2 separate regions of the Homo sapiens genome follow, and region 1 is linked to region 2. Evidence: fine-mapped expression QTL. Tissue or cell type: subcutaneous fat. Region 2 holds a variant in brackets; the other region holds the start of a gene. All regions are shown on one strand. Distances are between the middles of the regions.

Region 1 (16,781 bases), 57 kb after region 2:
CCCTCATTGACAAACTGTCAGAGATGTTTTAAAAAGAAAAAAAAAAGACAATGCAGAGGCATGTAACATTGCACAATGTATTAGACTAATCTTACATGTACCATCAGTTATTTAAAATAAAACTCTTAGAAGAATCATCCATTTAATTTTGAACTGTCATATAAAATTATCAGGTCTTCCCCCTTGTCTCGTGGCATCTTGAAGTTCTGAAGGAAACTGAGGAGAGGCAAGCTTCGTGCTTCCTTCTTCTTCCACTTTAAGTAAATATCATATTAAAATGAACAAAAAGCAAAATGAATCTTAAGAGATGAAAGGCTGAGCTGTGAGGATCAGGTAGAGACAGGAAGAGTCTACCACCCATTGCTAGAGGTGGTAGAAATACTAATTAACTAGTTGGATGTCATCATATCAGTAGACAGGGTTTAGGCTCCAAGCACTACAATTCACTGCTCAGAGCCAATCTCTCCAAGGCAACAGCCCCAATTTGCTATACAATAGGGTAGCTCTGCACTTATTTTTCACCAAAAAAATCGTATTTTGCAAAATAAACAGCAAACTAGCAGAAACCTTACCCTCCTCTTCTATTGCATATAATCTCTCACCTCCACATAAAGCCATGGGATTCTTTCCTGCCTTATCAGCTGCAACTTGGGTCATATTCATATCAAAGAACAGAAAGTGTCAACACAACCATTTGAAACAAATATGATACCTGAACCTCATTAAATATATTGAGTTAAAATCACATGCAAGATTTGGGTTCAGCTGTGACCACTGGCTGGCTCAGTGACTTAGACACGTTATTTAATCTCTCTGAGATACATGTTACTTATCAATAAAGTGAGATTATAAATAAAGTGAGATGAATGACTTTAGAAAGTTTTCATGGGAATCAAAAAGGCAACTTATAAAGCACTGCTTGTGTTCCTGGCCCATAATAGGCACTCAATAAATGGAGTGATTATTGTTGTTCAAAAACACAAAGTTCTAAGTTTTCTGAGAATTTTAGGGTCTTGTTTTTAAGTTAGAGACAAGTAAACTATAAGAATAAGCTTTTCAAAACAAAGAGCTCAGGATTTAGAAGTTTTCATCTCATCCCCAGATTCTGTTTCTAATAGTTGAAGATAAAGTACTCTTGTGTCTACTATAAAACGACTAGAAGAAAACAGAGAAAACACTTTGGAACACTGATCAAGGCAAAGAATTTATGGCTCAGACCTCAGCAGCACAGGCAACAAAAACAAAAATAGACAAATGGGACTGTATTTAACTAAAATGCTCCTACACAGCAAAGTAAACAATCAATAGAGTAAAGAGACAACCTGTTGAATGGGAGAAAATATTTGCAAACTAGTCATCCAGCAAGGGACTAATATCTAGAATACACAAGGAATAAAAATAACTCAACAGTAAAAAATTATAATAATTAAAAATGGGCAAAGGATGCAAACAGACATTTCTCTAAAGAAGACATACAAATGGCCAATAGGTATACGAAAAAATATGCTCAACATCACTAATCATCAGGGAAATGCAAATTAAAACCACAGTGAGATCTCATCTTAGCCCAGTTGAAATAGCTATTATTTAAAAGATAAAAAATAACAGACAGTAAGAATATAGAGAAAAGGGAACTCCTATACACAGCTGGTCGGAATGTAAATTAGTACAGCTGCTATGGAAAACAGTATGGAGATTTCTCAAAAAACTAAAAATAGAACTACCATATGATCCAACAATTCCACTACTGGGTATTTATCCAAAGGAAAAGAAACCAATATGTCAAGGGGATACCTGCACTGGCATGTTTATTGAAGCACTACTCACAATAGCAAAGATGTGGAATCAATTTAAGTGTCCATCAATGGATGACTGGATCAAGAAAATGTGGTATATACACACTATGGAATACTATTTGACCATAAAAAATGAAATCAAGTCATTTGCGGCAACATGGATGGAACTGGAGGTCATTATGTTAAGTGAAATAAGCCATGCACAGAAAGACAAATATCACATGTTCTCACTCATATGTGGGAGCTAAAAAAGTTGATCTCATAGAGGCAAAAGTAGAATGATAGTTACCAGAGGATGCAAAGAGTGTGGACAAGAGGGGAGACGAAAAGAAGGTTGAGAGGTTAGTTACTGGTTACAAACATACAGTTAGATAGAAAGAATGAGTTAATAACATTCAATAGCACAGAAGCATGACTATGGTTAACCACACATGTTATATATTTCAACACAGCTAGAAGAGAGGACTTGAAATGCCCCCAACACGTGGAAATGACAAATACTGGAGGTGATGGATACCCCAAATATGACTTGCTCATTACACATTTTGCATGTAACAAAATATCATATGTTCCCCATAAATATGTACAAATATTATATATCCATTTAAAAAAACCCTTGTTTCTAAATCAATTCTAACTTCAAACAGTAGATTCTTGTTCAGGACTCTTAACCTGTCTTGAGTTTGCTTGCCCTACCTGAAAAAATGATGGCCAATGTAAATGCACCCTCTACTGAAGAGAACTGGAGTGAACATGCAGAGGAGTAATGGACATGAAGCATTTTATAATCTGGATAGTGCTGTATAACACAGGCTATTACATTGGGCAGCGATGTGCCGCGCTGATGTGGGGTGCCAGAGTTCAAAGCTCCACTCTGCTACCCGCTGGCAGTAGCAGTGTGAGAAGCCATGGACATTAAACTCTGTAACTCTCCATTTACTCACGGGCATGATAAGAATGATTACTTCACAGAGCTGTCCAAAGAAACAAAAGAATATGAACAAAAACTTTTAATACATCGCCTGGCACACTGTAAGTGTTCAATAAAGATTAGCTACTAAAACGTATTATGGACCTTTTTGGTTTACAAAATATTGAGTTCCTTCTCCACTTTGCAATTAGAAATGTTTCATTTGTATTGCTTTCGTTTTTTTAAAGGTTAACTGATTATTAGCAATTTTGATAACCACTAAAAAATGTCAAAACATCCTTTAAATGTCTTTATCTGCATTCTTAAGACATCATGGTTTGTGATATTTTTCAAAGACTTATATCCCTGATTTTTAATGGGCTCAGTGAAATCTCATACATGGTAATATTCATGGAGATATGTGATTACGCTTATAAAGACTTTACTAGTCATAGAAACAGTAATAATCGCTTTCCTCAAATTCTTAAATCTTACAAAGAAGTACCAGTTCATATCACACTGTAATACCAATTAATAAAAAGGCATTTTAACGTATTCGATGCCTCATTAAGAAAAATCAGCTTTCCCTGTGGTTGTTCTTCAAGACTATTATTCCAAATCCATAATGGGCAGCGACAGTTTCAACAGAAAGAGCTTTCCTTTGTCCCCCTAGTGGTCACATGCAAAATAACAATAGGTAAAGAAAAGGCTTTCAGAACTGCTGGAGTAAAAAGCCATTCAACGCCTTCATTCTACAGAAGAAGAAACTAAGGCCAAGAGATGAGGACTTGGCCAAAACTACACAATTTTTCAGCAAGCCATCAGCATATGAAAAAGGCTTTTGGATATTATGAATATTATGACGTCTGGAAAGATACCCCAAAATAGACTTACCTAAGATTTTACAATTTTCTTGTCAATTGACACTAAGAAGCTTTATTTCCAGTTTTCTTTTGCCTTCTCAGAGAGATAATAAGTACAGTTTCCCAGGGGCAAAGATAAGACCTCAGCTGTGACCAAGAATTCTGCCTGAATCCTTGGTGAAGGATTCCTTTTTGAGGAATAAAGACTACCCCTGAGGGTTGAGAAGTGTACAAAGATAGCTCTCCACAGAAAAGACCAGCAAGAGTCAATGCATCTTTTCAGATGGTCAAGGGCCCACAATGAGTAAGACATAAAGGTCAATAAATAAGTTAAATTCAGTTTTTCTCAACTTTAAGGTACCCCCAAATAGGGAAAAATTGGAAGCAGGCAGGGTACACACATGGCAGAAGATAAAACTGAATTTTCTTAATTTGAGAAAAAGAAAACTTATTTGCATTATTAGTAAGCCTGTGTTAGCCCAAAAATTTAACAAAAGTACAGCTTTTGTTTGAACATAAATTAAGGAACTGAAGCCATTATCCAGATATTTTGAGGCAAATAATAAAGAAGACAGTCACGTAACACCCAAAATATGTTTATCTTAAAATTAGAAATTTCAGACTAGAGCAGGTTTCAATTTTTACATCACTTCACATAGATTCCACAGAAAGTTCTGTCAATCTGGAGGCACCTACGTGATGATTATGACCACAGGAATTCACCTCAAAGTGTATGTTCAAACCTCAGCTCAGACGCATACTAACTGCGTGATCTTAAGCAAATTACTTTACCTCCCATTCCTCAGTTTCCTTATCTACGCACAAGAATGATAACAGTATCTAGCGCATAGGCTGTCAGAGGATTAAATGTGAAAAATATACATGGCGAACAAGTACTTGGCACATTGTATGTATGCAGTAAATATTAGTTACTGTTCTTATCAAAATATTAAGGAACCCATTTTCTATACTTTAAGCCTGAAGAGAAAGCAAAGATAAGCAGTGAATAAAAGTAGCTTCAGACTGGATCATGGGAGACATGCTAGTCTGGCCTCTCTAGCTCTAATGAGATGTCTGACTTCGGAGAAATCTCTCAACTGGTGTGATCCTTGTTTTCTTATCTGCAAAAAATAAGAGGTTGGATCCAAGTTCACGAACCTCAAGCTTGACAAAAATGTAAAAGATCATTCACTTCCAAATCTGATACTTGAGCTCATTTACAACAAGAGCTTGTCTAGATTGTGATTAAATGTCTTCAGGGATGGGGCTCATGTCTATCCTAAAGCTGTCAGGCCCTTTTATCTTGAACACAAATGGCCTGAAAATCCTTTCGTATGTTGAGCTGAAATCAACCATCTGCATGTCATCAGGGCTACAATACCAATGGCAAGAAGTAGCACCATTCCTTAATGTGTTGCTGAGAAAGAAGAGACACTGACAAGTATACCATGACATGATGTTTTCTTATTATGTCAATCGTAAGAGACATCTAAATTTCAGAGTTGTTAAAATATGAAAATATGGGTGTCTTAGAATCAACTAAATGCAATTATCGTCCAGCGGCTTCACTAGCTGATCCTAATCGAAGTGTATGGCACATTAAAACCCAGTCTAATTTTCTTCCATAGGACAGTTCCTAAAGTATTTGCAAAGTATCCTTGACCAACTTAAACCTTTCCTTTTCCAGTCTTACTACCTTTAGCTCATATGCAAATCTTAAGACTATAACCATCTCCAGCTTCTGTCTACAGAACCCATTCTAGTTTATCTGAATCTCTTCTCATTCATACATGCGAGCACTAAGCACTTTTTCTACCACCCCAGATAAAATGATGACCAAAACAGACAATGACTCTGCCATCAATAATTCAATGGATATGCACTCTAGAACATGTAAACAATGACATCAAGCCAAAGTACTATAGGTATTCTATGAAATGCAGTAGAGACATAGCAAAAAAAAAAAAAGAAAGAAAAAAAAAGTATATTTAAGTGTGGTACTCAAAGAGGAACAGAAGGCTGTAGGTGAGGTCTGTCTATTCTGAAGAGACTACTAAAGCCTAGACAGAGGGTTGTCTTTCTATCTTCTCATCTTAATCTTTGTCTTCTTTTTGACAGCCATGATATACTGTAAAATTCTGATGTTCTCACAATCTATAAAATCCCAAAATATTTTTTAGCACATGCTATTATATTGTCTTTCCCACTCCAACCTGTCACTCTTCCCATCAAGTGCTTCTATAATTGGAAGGGGGTTGGTGGGAGAGAATTATTTTTCCCTCTGGAGGAAAGTAGAAGATGTTCTGTTTATTCTGGTCTATACACTTATTTAGAAGAATGTACTGAGGCAACACATTTCCTCTTAAGGAACTGTTTCTTCTAAACAAGGACATGCCCCTTCATTCCCATAATACAATCTTGATTCTCAGTCTACCAAGCTTGAGTTGTACATATCTGATCAGGCAAATTTATATTTTACTACAAACCAGTGAATAAAATGTAAAAATAATTCAGCAAAATTGAAGTCCACACTACTTACTATGAAATACCCAGAGTACTAAAATACCCTGTGTAGGTCAATAACATTTTGCTGCTGTGCATTTATCACATTTGGAAATCTTCTGGCATATTGCAATCTACCTATAGTGATGAGTCAACTATAATGATGAAGATGTCTTAATGCATCCTGGGATCCAACCCACTTTAAATACAGTATTGGAAGCTGTCCCAGGATTAGAAAACCTGGATAATCACATGAATTTTGTGTGAATTTATTTTACTTTGTATTGAGATGTCTATGGCTCTTACAAAAAGGGAATTCCATCGAGGTTTCTTGTCTCCTTTGTTTCAATTCAATAATATCCAGAGTGGTTAAAGCTTTTTTCCCCCTTAAACACAGTATGTGTATGGCGTGTGTGTGTGTGTGTGTGTGCGTGCGTGCAGCAGAGGTAGGGGATGGTCATTCATTCCTCACTGAAATCTGTGCTCGTGCACACCATGATGATTAAGCCATAAGCATTGTACTATGTGTGCTTTTCCTAGCAGCAACACATGTAGGGCTAAGTTTTAGATCAATGATTTGGATTGGTTGATCAGAGCTGCCGATGCCAATATTCTTAATTAAGTTCATGTTTTAAAAAGTGAATTTTTTCTCCTAATCAAGAATAATTGTTAATGATCATGAAAACATTTTTTATCAGGTAATCATTGCATACAGATTTGTATTATCTAAAAGAAAGTCAGAAAACATAATTATTTATTTATATGCATCCCCATTATAAAGATAAGATAGCCTCTTAATCATCTGAAGAGAGATTTAGTGGAAGTTGGAAAATCCTTCATCAAAATTAATATCCCTAATAATGGTTTATAAAGGAGATTTTTTTAAAAAAAAGAAATTGAAACTTTGCAAGCTGTAAAAGGAGAGAAGCACCAGTAATTTTGACTGAGGCATCTAAAGTAATGAAGTAGCCTAAAAACTGATGAGATGTTTCAGCTGTACCAAACTACTGAACAAAACAAGAGAATTGGGGAACAGGACACTTTCTGGATTGTCTTCCCAGGATATAAGGACACTCCTTAAATGCTCCCCCCTCTATTTGGTCCTGGGGGTGCTAGCCCCAGCTGATGGGTCCAAGACAGTACCGGACCAATCAGGGTCATTTTCTTTTCTCTCTCTCTTTTTTTTTTTTTTTTTTTTTTTTTTTTGAGACAGCGTCTCACTCTGTGGCCCAGGCTGGAGTGCAGTGGTGCAATCTTGGCCCACTGCAACCTCTGCCTCCTGGGTTCAAGCAATTCTCCCACCTCAGCCTCCCAAGTAGCTGGGATTACAGGGGCGCACCACCACACCCGGCTACATTTTTTTGTATTTTTAGTAGAGACAGGGTTTCACCATGTTGGCCAGGCTGGTCTCAAACTCCTGACCTCAAATGATCCTCCTGCCTTGGCCTCCCAAAGGGCTGAGATTACAGGCTTGAGCCACCGTGCCGGGCGTCAGGGCCATTTTCTAAGAAATTAGAAAGGGGGCTGAAAGAGAAGCCCTCTTTTCGACAGGTAAGCTCTGGAACTGTTGGGGTGCTGTTCTGCCCTGTGGACTGGAGGATGAAGGAGGCAGGTGTGAATGGAGACAAAAGGAAAGCAGAAGTGTCCTGAGGAGGAGATAGAGCTAGGGGAAGAATGCTGGCGGCTTCTCCGGGCCTGCCCCTGGGCCTTTCCAGAGACTCTGCAGAATTTCCACCCTTAACTTTCAGGAGAAACCCTATACAATAATGACACATACCTCTTCATTTGCTTAACTATCTCTGATGGGCTACTGTTACTTGCCAACATGTTTTGGTGTGATGATAGAGAACAAACCAGAAACAGAACTTACACAACTCCAAGTAATCATTTAGCCTCAGTAACTCTCAGTTCCTAGTCTCTGAAATGAGGGTAAAATAATTCTAGATATTTACATCAATCCTGTATTTGAAGATGAATAATTATTGTGACAAATATTACTAGAAAGCCTCAAAAATCACATAAAATCCTTTAGTACAAGAGCTGTCTTTTATATAATTTCATGCTGCCACCTGAACTGTTCAGAAGCAAACGGATTGTCCACTCATACAGTTGTTGTTCTAAACACCTTTGACATGTAGCTTAATGGGGTTTGAAGAATAGTATATTGCAAACAATTAGAGGTTTCCTTTGTGAGATATTAACTGGTTCAACAGACAGAAAATCAACTTCACTATCAACCCTCTTCTACCATAAAAATCAGCCAATTTGCACATTTTTTCTGCTAAAGGTGGTCTTAAAATATGACTTATTTTATTGACATATTTACGTATTATGTATTCATGTATTATCCTACTACCACATATGCTAATAAATTATACCTGTACATATAATCTGTGGGTCTCTATGTCTGCATACACACCTGCACACCCTTTTACCAATAATATTTCTGCTTCTTGTGTGTTCCAGTTTCACTGCCTTGGACATGTTATGTAACTTCTGTTGTCTCTTCATCAGTCTGTTTTCTCTGTCTTAATTGGGAAAATATGACACCACTTATTGAAGGATGAATTAAATAAAATAGTCTACAAAAGTACTTTGTAAACAGTAAAGGACTACACAGACACACAGAGCTAATATTTCCAATTAAATGTATAAGAAATTCATAATCTGACGAATGGACTATGAATCTAAAGCAGCTTTCTTCTCCCCCATTCTTACTTCATACGTGTTTAAAGAGCTCTATAAAAAGAAAATGTTCAGCCTCTTCTCACAAATTGGTAGCAATTCTTCATTTGGGGAAGGTCTTTTCCAGAAAGAAACTCAAATCTTTCCATCTTCCATGTGCAGAACATCTGTGCTAAAACCATTCCATGCACACTTCTTTGAAGCACTGGCTGCCTAAAGGAATACTTTTGATTTGGGCTTTATTTAAATGCCTGAACTTCTATTGGAGAAACAAAAGGTTTTCTAGTAAGAGCTCAGTTGGGAACAGGACCAACCTCCAGCCAGTTTAACTACTCAGAGGCCAAGCAGCCTGGCATTTCTTAGAGCTCTGTGCAATGGAAATCTCCCTGAGAACTTGCAGCACAGGCGAACAGCTGGTTTGGGAGGCTAGTGACCCTGGGTGCAATCACTGTGGTAATTAGATTTAATTTTCCTAATCCAACAGTGGCTGACTCCATCATGCCTATGTCTCCTATGTAGAAAATCATTACTCTCATTTAATGGTACTTTGACATGTTTCACATTTTTGTGGCTTAGTACCTTAACATTAGATATTACCTCTTTGTAACTATCAATCTAGCCATTCAAACAGCTATGTGTACTAAAGAGTTTAATTTGAAGGTTATCCAACTTCGGCAACTTTCCAGAAGGATCTTCGAACGTTAAGCAGACCTTGAATATCATTGTACACCCCTCTTCTGCAAGTCTTTTGTATGCTTGTATCAATTCATTTAGAACGATGGCATCAGTCATAAGTCATTGGCAAGCCTGAAGGGTTTGGGTTTTCAGTGTTTCTGCAAGCCCAGGGAAGCATGGCTTCATGCTACGACATCCTGGGGTCACTCCAAAAGAGTAACAGAGATCATGGGGCTACGTGAAAGCGTGTCTTCCTGGGAGGAGAGAAGGAAAGACATGTATGAATCTATCCATGTCTGCTTGCATCTGGAGAACGCCTGTTTATGTTGTAAAGAAAAGCCATCGGTATTGTCATCTCAGGAGACCGGCTTGTTTTATGTGTGTGCATGTTATACGTGCTATCACACGAAGCTGGCCAACTGATAGAGTGACGAGGTACTGTGTCCCTGGGAATTGTAATTGCTTGGTCGGTGAAAAAAAAAGAACATCAGACCATTGCTGATAATAGCACAAGGTGCATTTTGATAGTACAAAAGAGGAAACAGACGGAGTCATACAAGTTCTGAGTATATCTTAAACCCCCTCCAACAAAAAAAAGAAAGAAAGAAAGAAAGAAAGAAAGCAAGGGAAAGCCTGGGGCTGAAGGAGTGTTCCAGGGAGCGAATTGCTCAGGACTTCAAACACTGGGAGTCATTCTGTCAAGGGGAGGGGGCGGGCGGGGGCAGGCACTGGGCCTCTTTAACAAAGTCCTCCTCTCTTTGCTCCCTCCCACTTCATTCACTTGCAAATCAGTGTGTGCCCACAAGAGCCAGCTCTCCCGAGCCCGTAACCTTCGCATCCCAAGAGCTGCAGTTTCAGCCGCGACAGCAAGAACGGCAGAGCCGGCGACCGCGGCGGCGGCGGCGGCGGAGGCAGGAGCAGCCTGGGCGGGTCGCAGGGTCTCCGCGGGCGCAGGAAGGCGAGCAGAGGTGGGTTCGGGCTCCGTTGGCTATGCATACATCTCCCTTTTTTTTTTTTTAATTCTGTAGCGTTGATAGAAGCCAATCAGAGAGAGAGCCCTCTCCGCCCGGTGGGTGCCGCGCCGGAGTTGGGAGGGATGCTCTCAGCCTGCGAGCCCGGGTCGGGGCGGGCGCGCGGGTCCGGCTGCGCGGGCGGCGCTGCTGCCGCTGCTCAGGACCGACGCCGCTTCCCGGGGAGCCTGGGCACCGCTCCTCCGCCTCCTGGTAAGACCGATCCGCCGTGGGGCTGGGTGGGGGCACCGGGAAGCGGGCCGCCGCAGAAGAACCCGCTGCCTTTCTCTACGCCGGCAGAGGCTGCCAGGGGAGCTCTGGCATTTGCAAAGTTGGCTGGTCAATTACCAAAGGGCGCTGGTGCGTGCAGGTCCCGCCGAGCCGTTTGGGGCTTGATTTATCTCCACCTGCCCGCATCATAAGGGTCTGCGTGGTGACTGCTTGGGCTGAGTTACATTTCTTAGCTTTTGGGGTAAAGCAGAAAATCAGGTAGTCTGAAAACTCTGGAATGCTCCCAGTAAGGAAAACTTAAACTAAAGAGACGATTTGGCTGGTAGAAGGAGCTAAAGAAAACTGTTAGCTTGCACGTTCCGGGCAACGCCTGCCGGCTCATCTAGGACAGAAATGCTTAGGTTGCAAGGAAAGTCCAACACTGGACTCCGAAAATGGAGCACACTGTCCAGGGAAAAGTCATATGGAAGGCGCAGTTCGCTCGTGCTCCTCCACGGCTGGCCAGGCTCAAATCTGGGGGATAAAGCCTTCCCCGGACTGATTGGAGAGTGGTTGGAGTGCGCTTGGTTTTCGGTGCCAGATGCTGGAAAATTGGAGCCCCCAATGCGTTAATCCCAGAATTTAATAAAAAGGGACGCTGCAATGTTGTGGACTGCAGCAGTTGCAGAGCTGAGATTACTTCTTCCGTAGTTAGATATTCTGTCATGAGTTACCGTAGATCTCGAGATGGGAGATGCTGGAGAGGTCAGCGTGGTGCTAAGAAGTGTCACTGCTGCAATAAAATCCATATTTTATGGGGAGTTAAATGCAGGTCTCTGTCAGTGCAAAGGGCTGGCCACCTGAGTTAACTATGACTCAGAACATTCAAGAACCAAGAAGTTTAATCATCTGGAATAGCCACACATTTCTGTCTCCTACTCCCATTAAAAAAAAAAAAAATTTAAATGATGATAGTCATACTATAGAGGTGTATCAGACCGTGTCTCTGCGAATCTTCACTTTCACTTCGTAAAGCACACAGTGGGAAAGAAGGAAGAGGTTTTCCCTGCAAGAATGTTGCAGGAGTGGCTGTTGTGTACATATATGGCTGCTCTGGAGGGGTGCAGATCAAAATGTGGGCTTTCTGAGTGGTTAATTATCCAGGGGGTTGCAAACTCCTCCCTGTGTTGGAAAAAGGAACCCAGGGATATGCCTAGTTAATGTACAACTCTTCCAAGAAGGACTAACAAATATGCTTATATGAATAGTGCCAAGGGTTGCTTATTTCCTTTCTTTTCTTGCTGAAAGCTTTACCTGAAAAGGAAAACCCTTAGGATTTTACTTTGAGAGAGAGAAAAAAAATCTCTTCCAGTTTCACCTGAGACTTGAGCATCATCCCGTGTGTAATAGTACTTGCACGGCTCTATGCTTGCATTTTAGAGAACCGTAAAACCAGTTGTGTGAAGAAAGGGGTATGCTTGAGCAGATGTCTTCATTATGTCATAACCAGGAGGGTAAAGTTTATGCCAGAGGCCAGATTGTCAATGCAGAGCTCAGAAACTTAAAAGAAACCCAACAATTGACTGGAAAATGCAATCACATAGGGTTGTATCTCATCCCCTTTTGCTCTTTGATGTGTTCTAATTAAAAAGGTACTGAAGGAAAATAAAAGACAGATCTTTTCCCACCTAATGTAATGGTTCATGCCATACTTTTGAAGCAGAGGAAGTAACCAATTTCTTCAGAAAAACTAAGAGGCAGCAGCCCAATTTTGAAGGAAAATGGTGCCAATTCAGTTCTACTGTATTTGTGTCTACAATTATCTTTTGCTACCATTACAAGAAAGTGACAGTTTGGTATCTCCATAGGGACTTTTAGTCCCTTTACTATCTGGCTTTTACACCAATTTATTGCACTTACATTTTGTACTGCTAACTCTGCAAAGATAATATATGGAAACATAATCATTTTCTACCAAGTTGCCTACTATCAAAAAACGTGTACCCTACCTCTTCCACCCACCACTTCCATCAGCTTTGCAAGGAAAAACTTAGTGAGGCACTCTTCCTTTTTAAGAAAAAATGTACCTTGCAAAATACTGCTCGAGACACTTGAAAACAGCTAAAAATTTTCTAGAAAGCACAGCTACAGTCACAGGGTATTATATGATACTGTATTATTATAGCACCAAATCTGAAAATTAGGACTAATTGAGTGAATGTCCCACAGAGATTTCTTTAAAAGGAATGAAATGTGACCAATATTCTGAGTGAAACTACAATCTTCCTAAGGAATTGAAATGTGTGGTCCCCCCTTCTGGCCCGGTAGTTGCTTTGCAGTCACGAATGCCAACACACTAAGGCTGAATCCTTTGAACTATTCAAACTTTTTTTAGTTGGAAGGGACCTCTAGTGGGTCACTCCATGCATTTCTCCCTGGAGTTCAGCTGCAGAATGGATTTTGTTACCTAAGATAAGAGTATAACAACTTTTTCTCTGTAGACAAGTTAGTATTCTCTAAGCACTATCTTAATATTTGTGACAGGTCAAATCATTATTGCTATTATTTCTGTACTTCCTCTAATTTAGGGGACTTACAAATATTTTTATGGTTTTCTGAATATCTAGACTTTTGGTAACTGCTGGATGATTCCAAATGAAAGCAATGGCCAATTAATAAAGAATTTACCATCATCAATATAAGATTTTCTTATTTCTGATCTTTTCCAAGACTCTACTTCCTTACTTCTAATTTACTCAATAACAATAATAACATTATATTTAGAACTCCAAAAGTTCTACATGAAGAGCGCCGCCGCCCCCCGCCCCCCAACCAACAACAAGAAAAGAAATATTTGCAGGAAAAAAAAGTGCAATGACTGTTTCAGAAATCTGTGAACATTCACAAGTTATGCTGAACTAAGGCCATCTAATTCAAAGAATTCCCCGTTCAAATAAATATATGTTGAACATCCAAAAGCTGTTTAGATACCTGTGTCATCCTTACTCCAGGTTTTTTCTGTTTCATTTCTTTCCTTGATGTATCACAACACATTTTAGGTAACCTACTCCTTAAAATACTCTGCCTGGAACTTGGAGCAGCATAATTTCTGTAGGGTGAATCAGCCTCTTCTGCTGACAGCCTGCAGGTTTCAACTTCCAATTTAAAAATCTGTTCTAAAGTTTGAAATGTGTTCCAAATAAGATAACATCCAGCAGAATCCAGTTGCCTTGTGCTTCTTGCTTAGTCATGGCTGCTTATTCTTTGGTGTCCGTCAGAATTAGGGTCTCACTTATAAAAATAACAAGCAGTGACTCAGTCTGAATTGCATTCTTAACAGTGTTTCAACCTAGTCAGTGTCTACTGAGCACACTTTATTTACTTCACAAAAAAAGTGAAAATGTAGACAATCAAACTTTCTCTGGTTTAAATATTTTTCTGAATAATGATTCTAAATTCAAAGACTCAAGAACATTATGGTAATAGGAGAACTGCAGAAAGAAGAAGGCATACACACACACGCAAACACAGCACCCAGTTGTGACAATGTTCCAAGAATATTAGAGAAGAAATACAGAAATGCAGCATATGGGCTGATTTTCTTTTCTTCTTCGTTTTTTTCATGTTGTTTTCTCCCTTGGGATTTTTATTTTATTTTGAAGACAGATGAGTGCTTGAAGCACTTTACTGAAACTAAATAGTAATATTTTTGTTCCAGCTTGCCTTTTCCAAAGATTAACTGGTCTACTTTTTTAAGTTTCTATTCGTACAGAAGCCTCTCTTTTTCAAAACAATCTTATGAGGAACTTCAGGTTCTCTCTAATTAGCTATTGAACCAAATGTGTATAGTGTTTGTGATGCTATCACCCACAAAGTAGGAAGATAAGGGAAGAGGGGAGAGTATAAACAACCCTTCAAAGAAGTGGTGCATTCAAAATTACTACTAAATAGTTGGGTCAGAGGGAGCCATCTGCAGCCAACAGTCTAGTTGTTCAAAATTGAACTCTCCAAGAAACTTTCAACTCTTCCAACAAAGAAAAGTTATTGAAGGCTGAATGCTCTGAGCACACATTCATAAATGTGGAGTAGACTCATATGCAGAGACTATTAAAGATTATTTCATCTGTTTAATATCTTTACACTAACACCATTGGGTGCTGGTTTCTTCCAGGAATCAGATCACCTTGTTATGATTTATAAGAGGTAGAATTTCATTAATGCCAGAGTGTTAATATTAAATTTGATTTGTCATGTAAATGGGCAGCATGGTTTGCAAGCTTTTCTTAGTGTATGTGGTACTATCTTGTGGGAGAAACGACTTATGAAGAAGATGAGGCACATAAAGCTAGCATACCACAGGGTATGATTTATCTTCATATTTCAGCACTTGAAAGAACACTGTGTTTTCTCTTTCTCTAATTTCCTAAATTGGTAGGTCTGGCCAAAAGATATCCAAGAGACCTAATAAGTTATAGGAAGAGAAAACAGCAAGAAAAAATTAACTTGGGGAAGTGTCCAAGTGAGTGAAATGGAAAGAGATGAGGACGTAAATTTTTACAGCAGAGGGAAACATAAGAATAGAAATAGAATCAAAATTGCCATTTTTACATAGGGTGCATTTTCCTCTTTATAAATAGTGCTACTGTTAAATGCCACCTTATAAACATAATTACATCATTAACATATTTATACACACTACTCATCTCTACCATAAAATGCAAACTTGAAAATTACCTTTAAAAAATCACCATCTAAGGGAGGTAACCCTGGGTGGATGGTAAATTAACTGGAGGAATATCTTTTTCAAAGTGGTCTGAAATTGCATCAGAATCAACGAAAAGATTTCCTTAGTGCATTGAAGAATATCAACTCTTTTCCTTCTATTATCTTTATTGTCCTGCATGCTAAATAGAAAAACCATGTATTCCTCTGATGCCTGCAATCCAAAGTATACAGTAATAATATAGACCAAGTATTCTACTTGTCACCCATTTGGATCCTGTGTGTGATATAGCATGATGAAAGGCAGAGCTACAAGACAGCAACCCCTCACCTCTTTACATGGTAAATATATATATATACACACACATACACACACACACATATGTGTATATATATATGCTCAGAGCATATATATCTATACACACACATATATATAGTGGACAGAAGGAAAAGAGTTGATAATATATGTGTGTGTATATACATATGGTGTATATATATGATGTATATATATGATATATATGGTGTATATATGTATATATGTACTTTACATGGTGTATATATGTACACACATATGTGTATATATACACACACATATGTGTATATATACACACACATATGTGTATATATGTACACACACATATGTGTATATATATGTACACACACATATGTGTATATATATGTATACACACATATGTGTATATATATGCTCAGAGCATATATATCTATACACACACATATATATATCATGGATAGAAGGAAAAGAGTTGATAATATATACGTTTGTGTGTGTGTGTATGTGTGTGTGTGTATGTGTGTGTGTGTGTGTATATATATATATATATATATATATATATATCTCAAAGATAAAAAGCACTCACCAGTATCTTGGCTCAGAACTTTTATACATCCAAATAATAATGATAATAAATAATAAACTAACCTTTACTGAGCTTTTCTATGTCACACCCTCTTCTAAGTATTTTACATGCATTTCGCATAGCAATAATTACACAGTAAATCAAAATGACCCTACTATACTTGTATCCTCTTTACTTAGCCCTTTTTTGGTTTGAATTTCCAGGGAATCTCTGTTTGAGCCAAGCACTTAATGAAGGTGCTGTTAACAAACAGTTGTGATGTCTTAGAAGTAAAAGTGTGACTCTCTCTGAGAACTACAGAGCAGCAGAGGGCATGGGAATGATTTGATTATTTTGACCAGAGCTTGGCAGATGTGAAGGCTCAGGAAGATGTTTTTAAGTTATTCATTTTTGAAAAATCATCTGCAAGCATGTGTCAGAATTTATAATTGTAGTAGAAAGCATTGTGTGGGCCATTTTTATGAACATAATGATGGTACTTTTTATATGAGAATAAATTATCTTATCCTGCCTTCAGAGGGATCTTTATG
Region 2 (16,781 bases):
AAAACATTACTGCTCATTTTCAATGCACCTGATCACCCAAGAGCTCTGATGGAGATGTACAAGGAGGTTAATGATGTTTCATACCTGCGAACACAACATCCATTCTGCAGGCCATGGATCAAGGAGTACTTTTGACGTCCAAGTCTTGTTATTTAAGAAATGCATTTCATAAGGCTGTAGCTGCCATAGACAGTGATTCCTTTGATGGACCAGGGCGAAGGAAATTGAAAATCCACTGAAAAGGATTCACCATTCTAAATGTCATTAAGAAAATTTGTGATACATGAAAGGAAGTCAAAATATCAACATTAGCCGGAGTTTGGAAGAAGTTTATTTCAGCCCTCATGGATGACTTTTAGGAGTTCAACACTCCAATGGAGGAAGTAACTGCAGATGGGGTGGAGATAGCAAGATAATTGGAATTTGAAGTGGAGCCCAAAGATGTGACTGAATTGCTGCAATCTCATGATAAATCTTGAGCAAATAAGGAGTTGCTTCTTATGGACGAGCTAAGAAAGTAAGTTCTTGAGATGGAAACTACTTCCGGTTAAAGATACTGTGAACATTGTTGAAATGATAACAAAGATTTAGAATATTACATAAATTTAGTTGCTAAAACAGTGGCAGAGTTAGAGAGGATTGACTCCAAGTTTGAAATAAGCTCTACTGTGGGTAAGATACTGTCAAACAGCATCACATGCTACAGAGAGAAATCTTTTGTGAAAGAGTCAATCAGGAGACCGAGGTGGGCGGATCACTTGAGGTTAGGAGTTCAAGACCAGCCTGGACAACATGGTAAAACTCCATCTCTACTAACAATATGAAAATTAAGGTCAGGCACAGCGGCTCATGCCTGTAATTCCAGCTCTTTGGGAGGCCAAGGCAGGCAGATCACCTGAGGTCGGGAATTTGAGACCAGCCTGGACAACATGGTGAAACCTCATCTCTACTAAAAGTACAAAAATTACCTAGGCGTGGTGGTGCATGCCTGTATTCCCAGCTACTCGGAAGGCTGAGACAGGAGAATCGCTTGAATCTGGGAGGCAGAGGTTGCAGTGAGCCAAGATCGCGCCACTGCACTCCAGCCTGGGCAACAGAGTTAGATTCCGTCTCAAAAAAAATTTTTTTTAATTTTTTAAGTCTATCAATGTAGCAAACTTCATTATTGTCTTATTTTAAGAAATTTCCACAGCCACTTCAGTCTTCGGCAATCACCAACCTTACCATTCAGCAACCACCAACAATGAGGCAAACCCTGCACCAGCAAGAAGATTATGACTTACTGAAAGTTCAGATGATTGTTAGCATTTTTTTAGCAATAACATATTTTTTAATTAAGGTATGTATACTTTTAGACATAATATCATGCACTTAATATAGACTACAGCATAGCGTAAACATAACTTTTATATTTTTGTGGGAAACCACAAAATTTATGTGACTTGCTTCATTGAAATATTTGCCTTATTGTGGTGGTCTGGAACCAAACCCACAATATCTCCAAGGTATGCTTACAATATAGAAGAAAAAGATAAAATTTGAAAGCATTATGTTGGCCAAAAAAGATTCAGGGTGTGTAATCATGACCAAATTTATTTTTACCTCCAACTCTTCTTTTAAACTCAACTCAACGATTACTTTCTTCTTTTTGTCCTGAATGAAAACTTGGGCAATCCCATGACTTTTCTAACTACTCTTAGTAATTGCAAACTCCTACAGTCACCTTAAGTCACAAAACATGATCTCAGTTTGATAATTATAATTACAATCTCCAGGGCCATTTTGAGTCAGAGCTTCCAATTTCATTCAAAGGAAAGTCTTATATATAAATTATAGTTTCATAAAAAATTTCTATATGGAGTTCCAACTTTAAATCCAATAATTCCCATAGAAGTAACAACATATAAATTCCCTGGGTGAGATAAGTCTGCATGCAGTCTGGGGTGGGAAGGAGGAAGAAGGAGGAAGCAGAGACCAAGAGAAATGAAGAGTATGGGTAAATGCTTACAGGACTGGCACTTTGTAAGCCGGCTTTCTGCTCTTGGTTTGGTGGATGTTTAAAGTTGTCACTTGTGAAGCTTTCTGCACAGGTTTCCTACAATCTTTGACCACTTGTGGCCTCTCGCTTGCCTTTCCCCAGCCAGATGAATGTCCTCTATTCTTGCAGGTCCCTAATCTCTCCTCAGGTCATCTCCAGCTTCTTCTCTGCTGAAGCCTTTTCAATCTTCTAAAGATGATCCTATTAGGTCAAATCAACAAGGACCTCCAGAACAGCTTTTTCTCACTTACAGTGCTCAACAAATCCCCAAGAAACACTCATAAGTTTTTTTTGCCCAAACAGATCCTGGGAATAGAGTTAGACCTTAGGCAGCCTCAATATGTCTTCACTTTGGTTTTCTCGACTATCCCATCTCTGCCTTTTAAGTATTTCAATATGGGGTCGCACACCTGAATTAAGGCATCATCACGCTCTCAAGTCGTGTCTTGAAGGTCTTGTCACACACCCGAGATGAGAGACAGCAGAGAAGGGAAGAAGACTCATCTCACGGGGGCTGCTTGTGTTCAAAGAAATCCTCTCCAAATATTGCTTTTAATCTGAGCCTTTTCTTCTCGAAGTGCATGTAGAATTCCAGGGTCATGTAACAACTTTTCTAAAGCTCCTTTGGAAATTCTGCATATTCCTACTCTGGAATGCAGCATCTATCTTATTTAGATACTCGGCTGAAATTGCACATTTAAATCCTGTTGTGGATATTTTTAAATACAGAATAATCCAGAGAAAGATCATAGGTTGACTTGAATGATCAAGAGGGAAAATTTGATGATCCAAGAAAGAAAAGTAGTAACTACAGAAGGAAAGTGCCAGGAGTAAGAAAGAGGCAACAGATTCAAGGGAGCTGGAGGACAGATATGATTATGTGTATCTCAAGTATACCAGTATTCAAAGATTCTAATGAAACTTTTTTTTTTTTTGAGACATAGTCTCACTCTGTCACCCAGGCTGGAGTGCAGAGTGCAATGGCGCGATCTCGGCTCACTGCAAGCTCCGCCTCCCAGGTTCAAGCGATTCTCCTGCCTCAGCCTCCTGAGTAGCTGGGTTTACAGGCACGTGCCACCATACCTGGCTAATTTCTGTATTTTTAGTGGAGATGGGGTTTCACCATGTTGGCCAGGCTTGTCTCGAACTCCTGACCTCAAGTGATCTGCCCGCCTGGGTCTCCCAAAGTGCTGGGATTACAGGCATGAGCCACCAAGCCTGGCCTGGCCTGAAAAATTTTTTTAATTTAAATATGTAATTTCAGGCCCGGCGTGGTGGCTCATGCCTGTAATCCCAGCACTTTGGGAGGCCGAGGCAGGTGGATCACCTGAGGTCAGGAGTTCGAGACCAGCCTGACTAACATGGTGAAACCCCGTCTCTACTAAAAATTCAAAATTAGCTGGGCGTGGTGGTGCATGCCTGTAATCCCAGCTACTTGGAAGGCTGAGGCAGGAGAATCACTTGAACCTGGGAGGCAGAGGTTGCAGTGAGCTGAGATCGCACCATTGCACTCCAGCCTGGGCAACAAGAGCAAAACTCCATCTCAAAATTAATAAATAAATATGCAATTTCATCTCATTCTCTTGTGAAGCAAACAAAAATGCTTGCATCTGTATAAACTAGTTACCAGTAATACTTACTTATACTATCTTTATGTCAACACATTATAACAGAATATTTCCATATATTTTAAAGATATTATAAACATTTAATGTTTTAAAATAATCTCACTATGCATCCTTTTATTGATAAATATTTCAAAGCTTCACAAAGTCTACCAGGTTGTAGCAGAAAAGCAAAATTGGTACAGACCCATAATTCTTTTTTTGAAATTCCAAAATCTAAAAAGCTCTGAAAAACTTCAAGATTTTTCATAAGCTTGATGACAAAATCTGATCTGAACTGAGGAGAGCATGTTTTCTATTTATCCTGCTTACTGCAAACGTTCACATTTTCTGGAAAAATATTAATGTGTTTGATAGTGGGGTTTTACCTAGACTTTGTTGATAGCATTGATTGCGTCATATGCAATATGTGCATAATATTATCTTTCTAAAGTTTGGGGGAGGGAGAATTTGAGCTTTTAAGAGTATTTCAGATCCCAAGAGTTTTGAATGAGAGATTGTAAACCTTTTTTATAAACTAAAATGTAGTATTTTGTGATTTTATGCATTTAAGGAAGCCCAAATTTACAGAATTTAATTATAATGCAGAAACTCTGCCTTAGAGTAATAGTAGAAAGACCTTTTTGTAACCTTGCCTTACCTATATCACCAGTAGCGTGTACAGACTCCAAGGAGCAAATTAAAGCAAGATAGAGTGTACTGTCTCCAAAGAAAGCTGGGCTTTTCTGCTGGCTTCCTTATTTCATCTGGCCTACAACATTAAGCATGTTAATAACCAGAACACTCCTGCAAGTCGTTTGACCAAGCCGGCCTTCAGGTCCCTGGAGTTCACGCAGACCTGCACAGTAAATCTATTGTAGTAATTTGAAATATGTATTACAAATACAAAGGAATCTACATTTAATCCATCTCTAAAAATCATATTTAAAAATCATTGGAAAGGAGGATAAAGTTTATGGGGCATAATCCCATCCGTGTGGAATTTTGGCTGACCATCAAAATACCTTTTGATACCATAAATCTGTTTTAATCTTTAAGAAGTTCTGCACTGAACCAAAAAGGTTTCCAAGTGCGATGGTGCTGAAATGTGTGCAGTCGACCACGGTGTTGAGTCCCGCATCACTCACTGGGTTATCACCCAAGGAAAATAGTACTTTCGACCTCTTGATAATCATGACCATGCAAATGTCTCATTTCTTCTGTGTTCAATCTGACTCACAATTAAATTAGACAGTAAACATAGACATGTGTAAATACCAGATAATATTTCTCAACCTGAGTTTGGGGAACAGAAACCTTTTCAAACCTTTTAATGACAAATAAGCCACTAAGGAAATGCGAAATGTATATGTTGCAACGCAACGCTGCTCTGTTGATGCCTCTGGACACTCGACTGTGGTGGAAATAGGATACTCTAAAAAGACAATGTTGAATAACAAAAATGTAATTTTGCTTAGAAATCGATAAAATGTCTAAATGTTATTAGAACTTATGGATAAGCATCAAGTGTACAGTGGCTGGCCTGACTTCCAAAATATCAGTTCAGTAAATAAACTATGAGCTTAATAGAAAGCTATAACATAGGTGCTAATTACATTCCCCCAAAAACAATGTCATAGAGAGAGTTCTGCATGAGGACATTCCTTTGATGTCTGTATCTCAGAGTACCCAAAAATACTATTTTCTGTTAGGATTAATATTTTTGGGGGGGTTTGGTTGTCTCCTGGTTCTTAGTAAGTGTGCAAGGATTATTAATATTTGTTTAGGTTTTGTCTATCAATTTTCTTTTCTGCATAAATTTCTAGCAAGTATCATGATAGAGAAGAAGGGAAAAGGGAAGAGAAGACGAGAACAAGATGAAAGTAGATGAGGCAAGAAACTCTCACTTATATACATCAGTCAACTGATATAAACACTAATGACTGCTTAATTTTGAGATGCTGGGGTTTTCTTTTTTCTTTCTCTTCAGCTCACATTCTGTTTTTCTTGGTTGTGTTGTTATTTAGTCTATATTTTGATTTTATTATAGACTCTACACATTCCTGAGAGTAGCCATTTCATCCTGTCTTTTGAATTTCTGGTACTCAGAATAAATGAAAGTAAATGTCCAAAGAGGCTTAGCAATAACGTACTAAACATCCTTATCAGATAGGCTTAAAAATAAGCAAAAACTAAGAGTTCATCAAATGAGAGGCTGTGTAGTTGATGTTGAGTTTTAGACTCTCAAACTCCATTTGTTTTGTTTTGTTTTTTAAGATATAGGATGACCAATTGTACTAGAGCAACATGAAGACCAACAGAAGTTATTGTTGGGAGTTTTCTTCTGAGAAATAAATTTGCTTTCTTAGCTTTCAATGTCCTGCCTAAATAATATGACTTAAGAATGTAGGGCCAGGTGCGGTGGCTCATGTGGTAATTCCAACACTTTGGGAGGCCAAGGCGAGAGGATCACAAGGTCAGGAGTTCAAGACCAGCCTGGCCAACATAGTGAAACCCCGTCTCTACTAAAAATACAAAACTTAGCCAGGCATGGTGGCACGCGCCTATAGTTCCAGCTACTTGGGAGGCTGAGGCAGAAGAATTGCTTGAACCTGGGAGGCGGAGGTTGCAATGAGCCAAGATCTCGCCACTGCACTCCAGCCTGGGCGACAGAGTGAGACTCCGTCTCAAAAAAAAAAAAAAATGTAAAGCTTGCAACTCAATTGTAGCAATTGGTTGCAGACCTGATGTTAGACCACTGCCCAAATCTGCACTGTGTAATGTAAAGGACAGTCTTCTGAGGTCAGAGCTATTATTACGGCTTTATTTGCCATATGTTTAAGTGGGAAGTGCATATTTCAGTCAAGTTCACTCATTTTTGTTTCCAGTCTACTGTGCTGCTTTTGTAACTAGAAAACATTTTTAAAATAAAAATGTTAAAAGCAGAATCAATGGAAATAATGAAAATATCTATTCAGTCGTGATTCCCCATACAGGTTAACATGACTGGAAAGAAACCTGTAGCAGTGGAGAGGTATTGCACCTCCCTAAACGTCTTTCAGTTCCCAGGTGGGAATGGAAAGCAACCTTTCTCATACACTTTCTCCTTTTTCTCTGACTATAATGTTTTCTGATTCTATTTAGGAGTGTGTCTAATTGATTTTTCCAGTTTAGCAAGACTTGCCCTGAGTCATTTCCTGTTTCCTCTTTTGCTGCGAACAGAGACATCTCTGCAGAAAGCCTTTCCATCCCATGATAGCTTCCTTGGACCGAGCATATTCAAGTCCAGCGCTATGCAGCCAGGAGGGTGTCTGCTCCCTTAAGAACCCACCTCATAGTGTGGAAATAAACAAACAAGGGAAGGCAATTCAATAACAAAAGAAAGCAACTCAAAAGCTAAGGAAACCTAGCTTCAAAGTCCCTGAAAAATAAACACATTTATGAGACAGTCCTATTTGACACTTTTTTAAGAATTTTTGATAACATTTCATAAAATAGAAACCTAGGTTCTCACCCTTTTTCTATTGTTTAAAAATCTTTATTGTTGAAATTAAAAGAAATTAGAGAATAAAGGTCTGTTCTTTATTAAGAAAATAATTTAGAGTACATCCATTTCTTGACCTCACTACTCATTATATTTCCATTAAGGGCATTACTTTCCACTTGGCATAGCAGTCACTTGAATACTAAACTTGTGCTCAAAAAAGAATACACCCACCTTTTATTTTTTAATTCCTACTAAATGAAAATTAGTTCATTTTGGCTTACATTTCTTTAAGCTGATTTTGAAAATAGCCTTTTTGATGTGTACTCAGGCCAATAAAACCTCCCTACTACCCAGGGCCATTCCAATCCCTTCTCAAAAATCATGCTCTTGGCCAGGCAGGTGCGGTGGCTCACGCTTGTAATCCCAGCACTTTGGGAGGTGGAGGTGTGCGGATCATGAGGTCAAGAGATCGAGACCAGCCTGGCCAACATGGTGAAACCCCATCTCTACTAAAAATACAAAAATTAGCTGGGCATGGTGGCACGCGCCTGTAGTCGCAGTTACTCGGGAGGCTAAGGGAGGAGAATCGCTTGAACCCGGGAGGCAGAGGTTGCAGTGAGCTGAGATGGGGCCACTGCACTCCAGCCTGGTACAGCAAGACTACGTCTCAAAAAAAAAAAAAATCACACTTTTACCTGCCACCATGACAGTGTCATGGTTTCCATTTTTCTTTTCTTCTCTCTCTTGCTTTTCTTTTCTTATAATCTGTCAGTAGATTGGCAACAGAAAAATATGAATATATCATGTGATATTAAATACACTTAAAAGGACATGATTTTTGTGTTTTTTTTTTTTTAACGTGCACGCAGTTCAAAGGGGAAAAAGTACTCACGTTTTTTAAAGTAGTCAAGAGAACACTGCACATGTGTGGGAGGAAGCTGTGTCTCACTTGTTATAACCGGGTTAAGGATTTTACTCTATTACTATATAGCAGACAATAAAAGCAGTAGATATTGATATCTAAAAAAATCACCATTTAATCGTCTTAAACTTCACACATATAAGTAAACTTTTAAATTGATTGTCCTTCGTGCAATAATTCACTTATTGTTCAGCCCACAGAGTTTAAAATTATATATACTTCCTAAAGATGAGTACAGGCAGGAGGAAAAAAAAAAGGTAGCTTGTAACAGCTACAGCTTCTCTATTACTATCTACCATGAATACCTTCAACTGAAAAACACCTCACAGAAACAAAATAAAGGTAAAACTATGTATTAGTCCATTTTCACACTGCTGTAAAGAACTACCCAAGACTGGAAATTTATAAAGGAAAGAGGTTTTATTGACTCACAGTTCCACATGGATGGGGAGACCTCAGGAAACTTACAATCATGGAGGACAAAGGGGAGGCAAGGATCTTCTTCACATGGCAGCAGGAGAGAGAAGAGCTAGCAAGAGCAGGGAAAACTGCCTTATAAAACCATCAGATCTCATGAGAACTCATCACTATCATGAGAACAGCAGGGGGGCAACTGCCCCCATGATTCAGTCACTTCCCACCAGGTCTCTCCCTCAACATCTGGGGATTACAATTCAAGATGAGATTTGGGCAGGGACACAAAGCCTGACCATATTAAACTGGTTTGTGTGTTTTGCAAACACAACTTCAGAAAGCAGCCCCTAACTCACCTTTCCAATTCCCTCTCCTGTTACCATGCACATAGATGACAGGCTTGAGGGCCATTTGCAAAGATTCCAGTTCTCCACTGGCTTTGTGGGAGGGTTGTGTTTCCTATCATGTCATGTGACTTGCTGTGGCCAAAGAAATGGAAGCACAAAGGAAACACATAATTTAGCAGAAGTTTTAAGCGCCGCATTCTCTAGTCCCTGGGAAGTTCATGTCCAAATCGAGCCTCCATTGGCTTCTTCTACCCGTGAGTGACAACAATGAGTAGTGCCCCCGCTTTGCAGATTCACAATGAACATGTAACCTGAGGAAAAAAATAAACTTTTGTGCTAATTCACCAAAATTTTGAGATTTGTTTGTCTTACTGCAACTTAACCTCCCCTAACACATCATCTCATTTAGAAACATAAGCGATCCCACAGGAGGCAGCAAAAGTTAGCAAACATCATAACAGGTTTATTCAAAATAGCATGAATAAAATATTACTAAAAATCTATAAAAAGTAAGTTGTTCTTATTAAAATCTAAAGATTTTAAAATCTAAAAATCCATTGCTTTTCCTTAAAAAGTAAGTTTTTAAATTATAGTGATGTTTTCAGCAGTAGTGTTAAAATAGTACTTAACAGTAATAACGATAAAATTTACATTTGCATAGCACCCCAAAACAGTTTAAATCTGCGTTTTATGTTAATTTGATTAGAATTGAGGGATGTCTCATCAGAAGGTTCTCAGTTTTATCATGTGTGTTGTACAGAAAATATGACAATTCCAATGTCACACTAATTGAAACACATTTTGAAAAACAATAGGAGAGTAAGTAAAAATATTAGACTTAGTAGAAGGAAATTAAATACTATTTCTATCAAAGAGAGAATATGGTCTTATTCTAGATGTTCTAATGCAATATCTGTAAGAAAAAAAAAAAAAACAATAGCTCTAGGTTAGACTACTTGCCAGAATCCTAGAAATGTCTCAAAGAAATTATTAGGAAGTTAAAGAGCAGTAGCTCAAGGTCTCAGTGTGCACTCACATGAGATGGCAGGGTTGCAAATCCCTGCTGAATAGTGGGGCTTCATCATGCTTCTCAGGAAAGAAAAATCAGAAAGAAAGCCACCAAGAGCTATCACCTACGAACCACGAGATATGGCAGTGTCAAAAAGTGACTGGTCATTCTACAAAGCTGGATAAACGACACTTCTCTGATGGTTTCAGGCAATGTAATTAACAGAAAAATGTGTGAACTTGAGGAAATACTAGGACCCAAAGCCATCCAATAGCATTTAAAAACTCAATAAAGGAGACAATTATATATTCTTTTGGCAAATATTAGTCGTGTGCGTGTGTGTGTGTGTGTGTTCTACACAACTGACCATTATTTGACAAGTATTTTTTGAGGA[CT/C]TTTTTTTTTTTTTTTTAAGAGACAGAGTCTCGCTCCATCACCCAGGCTGGAGTGCAGTGGCGTGATCTCAGCTCACTGCAACTTCTGCCTCTCAGGTTCAAGCAATTCTCATGCCTCAGCCTCCAGAGTAGCTGGGACTCCAAGCACGCGCCACCACACCAAGCTAATTTTTTTCTTTTAATTTTAATAGAGATGGGGTTTTACTATGTTACCCAAGCTGGTGTCAAACTCCAGAGCTCAGGCAATCGTCCCACCCCAGCCTCCCAGAGTGCTAGGATGACAGGCGTGAGCCACCACACCCAGTCTATTGAGGACTTATTGTGTAAAATTTTCTCCACTTGGCAGCATGGACGGTACAAAGATGTTTGAAAAACATCCTGTGGTCTCCCAAAAGTTACAACCTATTCCATGCCAAGCACTCTAAGCCCTGGAGACAGATATAGGCCCTGGAGAGCACTTTGGAACCCAGCCCATGCTTTCATTATAGTAAAGATTTCATAGATACTTACTTGAATGAATAAACAATCATTTAGAATTAACCTCCTCCATTTATTTCTTATATATAAAACCTCAATTTCTAAACATTTGCTGTTCTTCATTTAGGATATTCACAAAGCCCCTGCAATATAGTTTTTCTCTACTCTACAGCATGATGAAATATTGTGACAACTTTATAATAATCATGATATTCCAATTTAAAAGCATATAGCCAGAGCTTTATATATGAAAAAAGTGAATAGTTGACCTACAGATAGCCAAGAGGGAAAAACGAGTTAAGGAGATAATGATTTTAAGCAAGAACATTGAAATAAAATATCCCATAAGGTTCTGAGTCAGCTCATGTTCATTTTCTTGTTAATTAGAAACAGTGAGGACAAATATTTGGTAGTTTAGTCTTTAACTTGCATAGTCTTTCTATATTTAAAAATACAGTCCAGGCACAGTAACTCATGCCTACAATCCCAGAACTTTGGGAGGCCGAGGCAGGTGGATCACTTGAGGTCAGAAGTTCAAGACCAGCCTGGCCAACATGGTGAAACCCCATCTCTACCAAAAATACAAGAATTAGCTGGCCGTGGTGGTGCACACCTGTAATCCCAGCTACTCAGGAGGCTGAGGCAGGAGAATTGCTTGAACTCAGGAGGCAGAAGTTACAGTGAGCCAAGATTTTGCCATTGCACTCCAGCCTGGAGACAGAGCGAGACTCTGTCTCAAAAAAAAAAAAAAATAGGGAAAAGTAACATTTATAAAGTTTCAACCATATAACAGATGGCATATATGTGTATATACACATGTATATTTTTATTTTTTTCTCTCATCTCTTCCTAATACTGGCCTTATGGAAAATAAAGCCTACTATCTAGATGTTTCAGGATGCAAATAATTAACTAACAAGAAAACCTACTCACACTGGCATATATCAAGAAGTCCTGGTTGGTTAATTCAGTTGCTCGTCAATGTCCTGAAAAACCTCAGTCCTGTTCAAATGTTTTTTGAGTCCTACTCAGCCTATCACCGTGGTTTAAGAGGCCATCCCTGCTGTCTGCTGTTCTAGACAGGCACAAAATCTTTCAACAACAAAAAAAGAAGAAGGGTATCTCTTCTGCTGTATCTTTTAACCAGCAAGAAATAATCTCCCCTCCACCCCACCCCTCATTAGCTAGACTGGGTCACACGCCCTTCCCTAAACTTTTCACTGGAGAAGGGAACGGGGGCCCTCATGAATGTTGTAGTTGATTATGGTTTAGCAGAGGTCTGGGGCTCTCTGAGCATACAGCTACACAGAAAACAGCTGGCCAACAAGGCACAAGCTGGACATGAAGGGTAGGAAACCAAGAGTGTCTGCTAGCAACATATCCCTTTTCATGTACAGTTAATCTTCTATCCACAGATCAAGATTTGAAAATTCGTCTACTGGATAAAATTTACTTTAACCCCCAAATCAGTACTTACTGCATCCTTTCAGTCATTCACAGACTTACGCAGCAGGGAATGGGGGTTGGTAGAAATGAAAATTTTGAGTCACCCAACGGGCATTTCCATTCCAGACTGAGGCCGAACAAGGTGATTCTGTGCCTTCTTGTTTCAGCTCCCAAACTATAAACAAGTGTCCTTTTCACAGTCTACTTAAAAGTGGCACGCTTTTTGGAGTTTTGAGCTTTGTTGGTGATTTCACCATTTCACCAAGCATGGTACTGAAATGCTGTCTAGTGTTTCTGAGTGTAAGAAAACTGTAAAGTACTTTATGGAGAAAATATGTGTGTTAGAGAAGCTTCATTTAAGTATGCGTTATAATGCTGTTACCCACGAGTTCAATGTTAATGAATCGACAATATATACTTAATAAGGTGTTTTTAAACAGAAACACCTGTAAAACAAGGTTATATATTGATCTGTTGACAAAAGTGTTGTAACCAGAGGCTCACAGGAACCTAATCCTGTATTTTCCCAAGGAGCAATGATTCGATATTTGCTAATTCAGTGTTTATGGAAAATGTACAGAGCATAACTACCACAAATAATGAGAATCAATGGTGAAGAGAAACTGTGATTTAACTAGGTCAAGTCACATGGCCATAAATAACAAGCCAGACCTCAAATCCAAATCCTATCCACCTTGTTAAGGACTTTAAATTTTATTCTGAAAGCAGTGGGAAGACATTAAAAGGTTCTAACTGGGGAGAAACATGAACAGATCTGCATTTCTGGAACATTGTTATGGATACAGTCTGGAGAACAAACGAAGAAGTAGGGAGGTTGGATTTAGGGAGACCAGGTAAGAGGGTTATTGCACTAATTCAGACAAGAAGTGACAATAGAGAGTGACAGTAGAATAGGAAGCCAGGAACTTAAGTATCAAATTGTTTTCCTCTGAGACAACAGAAAATAGACCTTGGCCAAAATGTAAACACTAGCCACCAAGAAAGGATGTAAAAGGAACATAATTTTTACGAAGGAAGAGTCAAGTTTGAGAGAGAAAGGGGTGCAGAGTACAGATTTTTAAAAAGGAAAGAATTGTCCCATTTCAAAATATGGCTAGGTACTGGCTAAGTCTGGCCCATTTTCAGATTCTCATCTGAAAATCTTAACAAGAACCTAGCTCATAGCCTCTATTAATATTAAGACATTAAATTTTAATAAGTGGAAAATGGGATTCTTAAGGTTTCTCAGTTGCATCCTATAGGGAGCTGACCAGTCATTTGTGATTTTACATATCTCTTGGTTAAAGCAAAGTTACAAATACATAACTGAGTATTGGGATGCATTATGCAAATGTTTGACTCTCCCTGGAGGACTTTGTGTCCCCAAAGAAATGAGTGAATTGCAATTGAGTTATAAATATATTTCCACCTGTGATCAACAGTAAAATTTTCCTTATGTAGTATTTAAAGTAAAAGCCTTCAGAACCATTGTACATTAGAATGAAGGTAAGTAAAACGAGAATTACGATCTTCATTTATACTATCATGTCACATTTTCATTGAGACACTGTAGAATTTGAAGTATTGTCAAGTCTGCATGGAATTGTATGAAAGAAGGAAAGAGTAATAAGAGAAAGAAAAATATCAATGCCAAAGGATGGTAAAGGCTAGAATGTTGGGGCGTGTACAATCTGTTCCTTATCAAGTGTTGATATCCAGTGCATTGTCATTTCTAGTTCTTATGACATGTGAACGATTTTAATTATCTCATGATAAGAATTTCATAATACATTTTGCTGTACAATATTCAAAACATTAATGCTAATATATGGCCACATGCAAAGCCTTACATGTCATACATTTGAATCACGTGCTGTATATTATTATACATAAGTGATAGGCACACACTTGGATGACCCACTATACAATAAACTTTTAAAATAAACTGTCCTTTGAAACTCAGCCTTTCAAAGGGCTCATAAAAGCCTTTCAGGCAATACTGTCAGTTAGAAAGATAATCAAAAAAACTAGAAATAAGTGAATCATTTTAGAGTATTTTTCAAGTGTTGAAATTAGAAAGAGGCACATAGTAAGGATGTATTCAGTTTGATTCTTCCTACTGTTGACTATGCTGCACATGGTTTGTGCTGAGTATCCCAAAACTAAAATAGGATATTTTTCATATTATATTTATGAAAGTGTTAATAAATGCTAGCTGCTACACCAGACTTTCTTTTTTTTTTTTTTTTTTTTTTTTTTTTTTTTTTGACAGAGTCTCGCTCTGTTGCCCAGGCTGGAGTGCAGTGGCACAGTCTCAGCTCACTGCAACCTCCACCTCCCAGGTTCAAGCGATTCTCGTGCCTCAGCCTCCCGAGTAGCTGGGATTACAGGCGTGTGCCACCACGCCTGGCTAATTTTTGTATTTTTTTTAGAAAAGACAGGGTTTCACCATGTTGGCCAGGCTGGTCTTGAACTCCTGACCTCAGGTGATCCGCCTGCCTTGGCCTCCCAAAGTGCTGAGATTACAGACGAGAGCCACTGTGCTTGGCCTGTAAACATATTTCTCACATCAGAATCAGTAAGAGTCTTCTTGGTTGGGTAGCCTTCCACATGGTCACTTCTTCCATCTTAGGCCATGGGAGTGCTCTTCACTCAGCCGGTAGGTGGTGGAAGACACTGTGGGGTGCCAAGGCTCACCTGTTTCTTAATCACACTGGTTTGGCTGTCACTCCTCTTCATATTCCATTGGTGAGAACTAGTCACATAGCCTGACCTAGGACTGAGACTGGGACATGCAGCCAGGAGCTGAGCTGTCACTGCCCAGTAGCATCTCCTCACTGGACAGGCCCCATAGACTGCTCAGCTATGTGTCTCGGCCACATGTGACATTTGCATTTCTTGCCAATATTCTTTGCCTTTAAAGATCCAAAATTGGTTATGGAGGGAGTCAAATCACCATACATATTCCATATGCAATGAAACTTTCTTGTTATGGGACAGAAATATCTGTGATGCCTCTTTCATACTAAATTAGACTTCAATTGCATCTGGATCTTTATATAAAATAGTGCTGCTACTACTAATAATTATTATTATCATTGAAAATTGGGGTAAAAAAAAGAAAAAATATCAGAATATAAAAAGAATATTCTTCCTTTCCCATCCCACTCTTCACTCCTCTCGAAAGTTTCAAATTTATAATGAAATGTATTTTCCCATTTTCTAAACAGAAAATCATAGGAATATTAGGTACTACACGAATGAAAAGTCCTTTATCCATCAGGGCCTCCATTAGCATCTTGTAGGCTGAGGCCCAACAGGATAGTGACCTTGTTTATTTACACTTTTTCAGATCTTACCAAATTGCAAACCAAGATTCACACCAACATCCAGACCCCACTGATCAGAACACAGTTTGCTATTACTATAACTTTCAGCTGTTGTGAAATCTGAGACTTGTCTTTTTTCCTCAGTGCTAGAGAATAAATCATGTGCCAAGGAAAGTAAGTGCTTATAATTTCATTTCATATCAATGGGGCTGTAAATATAAGATTTGTGTGAACTATAAATGTAAAAATTACCTGGAAATGATCCTAAAGATATTTTAAGTAAAGAAGAAAAAGAAGGGATCTCATTTAAGATGAGGCAGACATCTCATAGACAGCAAGAAAGAAATAAGATGTCTTTGGGCTCAAAAGAAATTATGCTGAACTTCAGCAATAGGATCAGAAGAGAAGAAATAATGCAAAAATGTTGAGGACCACGCTGCCATGATTAATAAAAAACATTCTTTTTCTTGAAAGACCATTTAACTGACGTAATGATACTCCTTTAAAAGCATGGTAATGATGGGTGGTGATGCAATGAGGTAAGGGATGTTTCTTATGAGTACTTTCTAATAGGCACCCGGCAGATGATACTGGGTAAGGATTCTAGGGCTGATGGACAGAAAACATAACATGGAAAGAAATGAAACAAGATGTTTTTTATCCCAGCATGGAGAAACTCTATGGTTCAAATGGAATTCAGATCTAACAAAAAGCAGGGATCAACCTTAAACAATAATTTTGCCTCCTTCACATTGTCCTGAAATTATTTCAAGCCTTAATTAGAAAATCTGAAAAAAGGAACTTTCTGGAGAATAATGAGATTCTCCCTAGTCTGCTGTTTTTGGAGGCACCACCCTGAGTATGTCTCACATTGCTCCTAGCTAGTTTACAACATGGATTGAATAGAAAGAACACTTTCAGATTGAAAATGGCATTTATTGGTTATCAAGATAACCCTTTCTTTAACAGCTCAATTTGGCATGCCTTTGTTTTTAATTTAAACTGAATGAAAATTAATTTTGTCTTCAAATTTTCATGCCACTTTCTGGGATGATTGGAGCTACCCTGGAGGGTGATGAAACTGGAGATGGGGATCACAGTTTTGGTCTCTAGAGAGAAAGAAATAATTTCCATATTTCAAAATCATTTCATTAGTGAATATAGATGGTCTGGATTTTCAAATCTAGGGAACTAACCATATGCTCCCTCTCCTCTGAAGAAAATAGTGGCAAATTGCCACCATCCAACCCAGAAAGAATGGAAGATATCTAGAAACAAGGAATTATAAATACAAGCCTACTTCATTATGCATA

Which allele goes with the higher level. Alleles are on the strand shown, and positions count from the first base shown. SD is a standard deviation of normalised expression in the study named.
For the expression in subcutaneous fat of the gene that starts at base 10,199 in region 1, allele C in region 2 goes with a lower level than allele CT (large effect, 0.93 SD a copy in TwinsUK).

The links.
Region 1: CDH6 starts here. The variant in region 2 is fine-mapped to the expression of CDH6 in subcutaneous fat (TwinsUK, PIP 0.95).

Annotation. Positions count from the first base shown.
Region 1 is chr5:31,183,488-31,200,268 of GRCh38, forward strand. It overlaps CDH6 (cadherin 6), which reads left to right and starts at 10,199. Exons shown (of 12, transcript NM_004932.4): 1 at 10,199-10,399.
Region 2 is chr5:31,126,822-31,143,602 of GRCh38, forward strand. No RefSeq gene overlaps it. Among named protein-coding and RNA genes, the nearest start is that of CDH6, 58 kb to the right of the region's middle. The variant CT/C (reference allele first, on the strand shown) is at 10,216.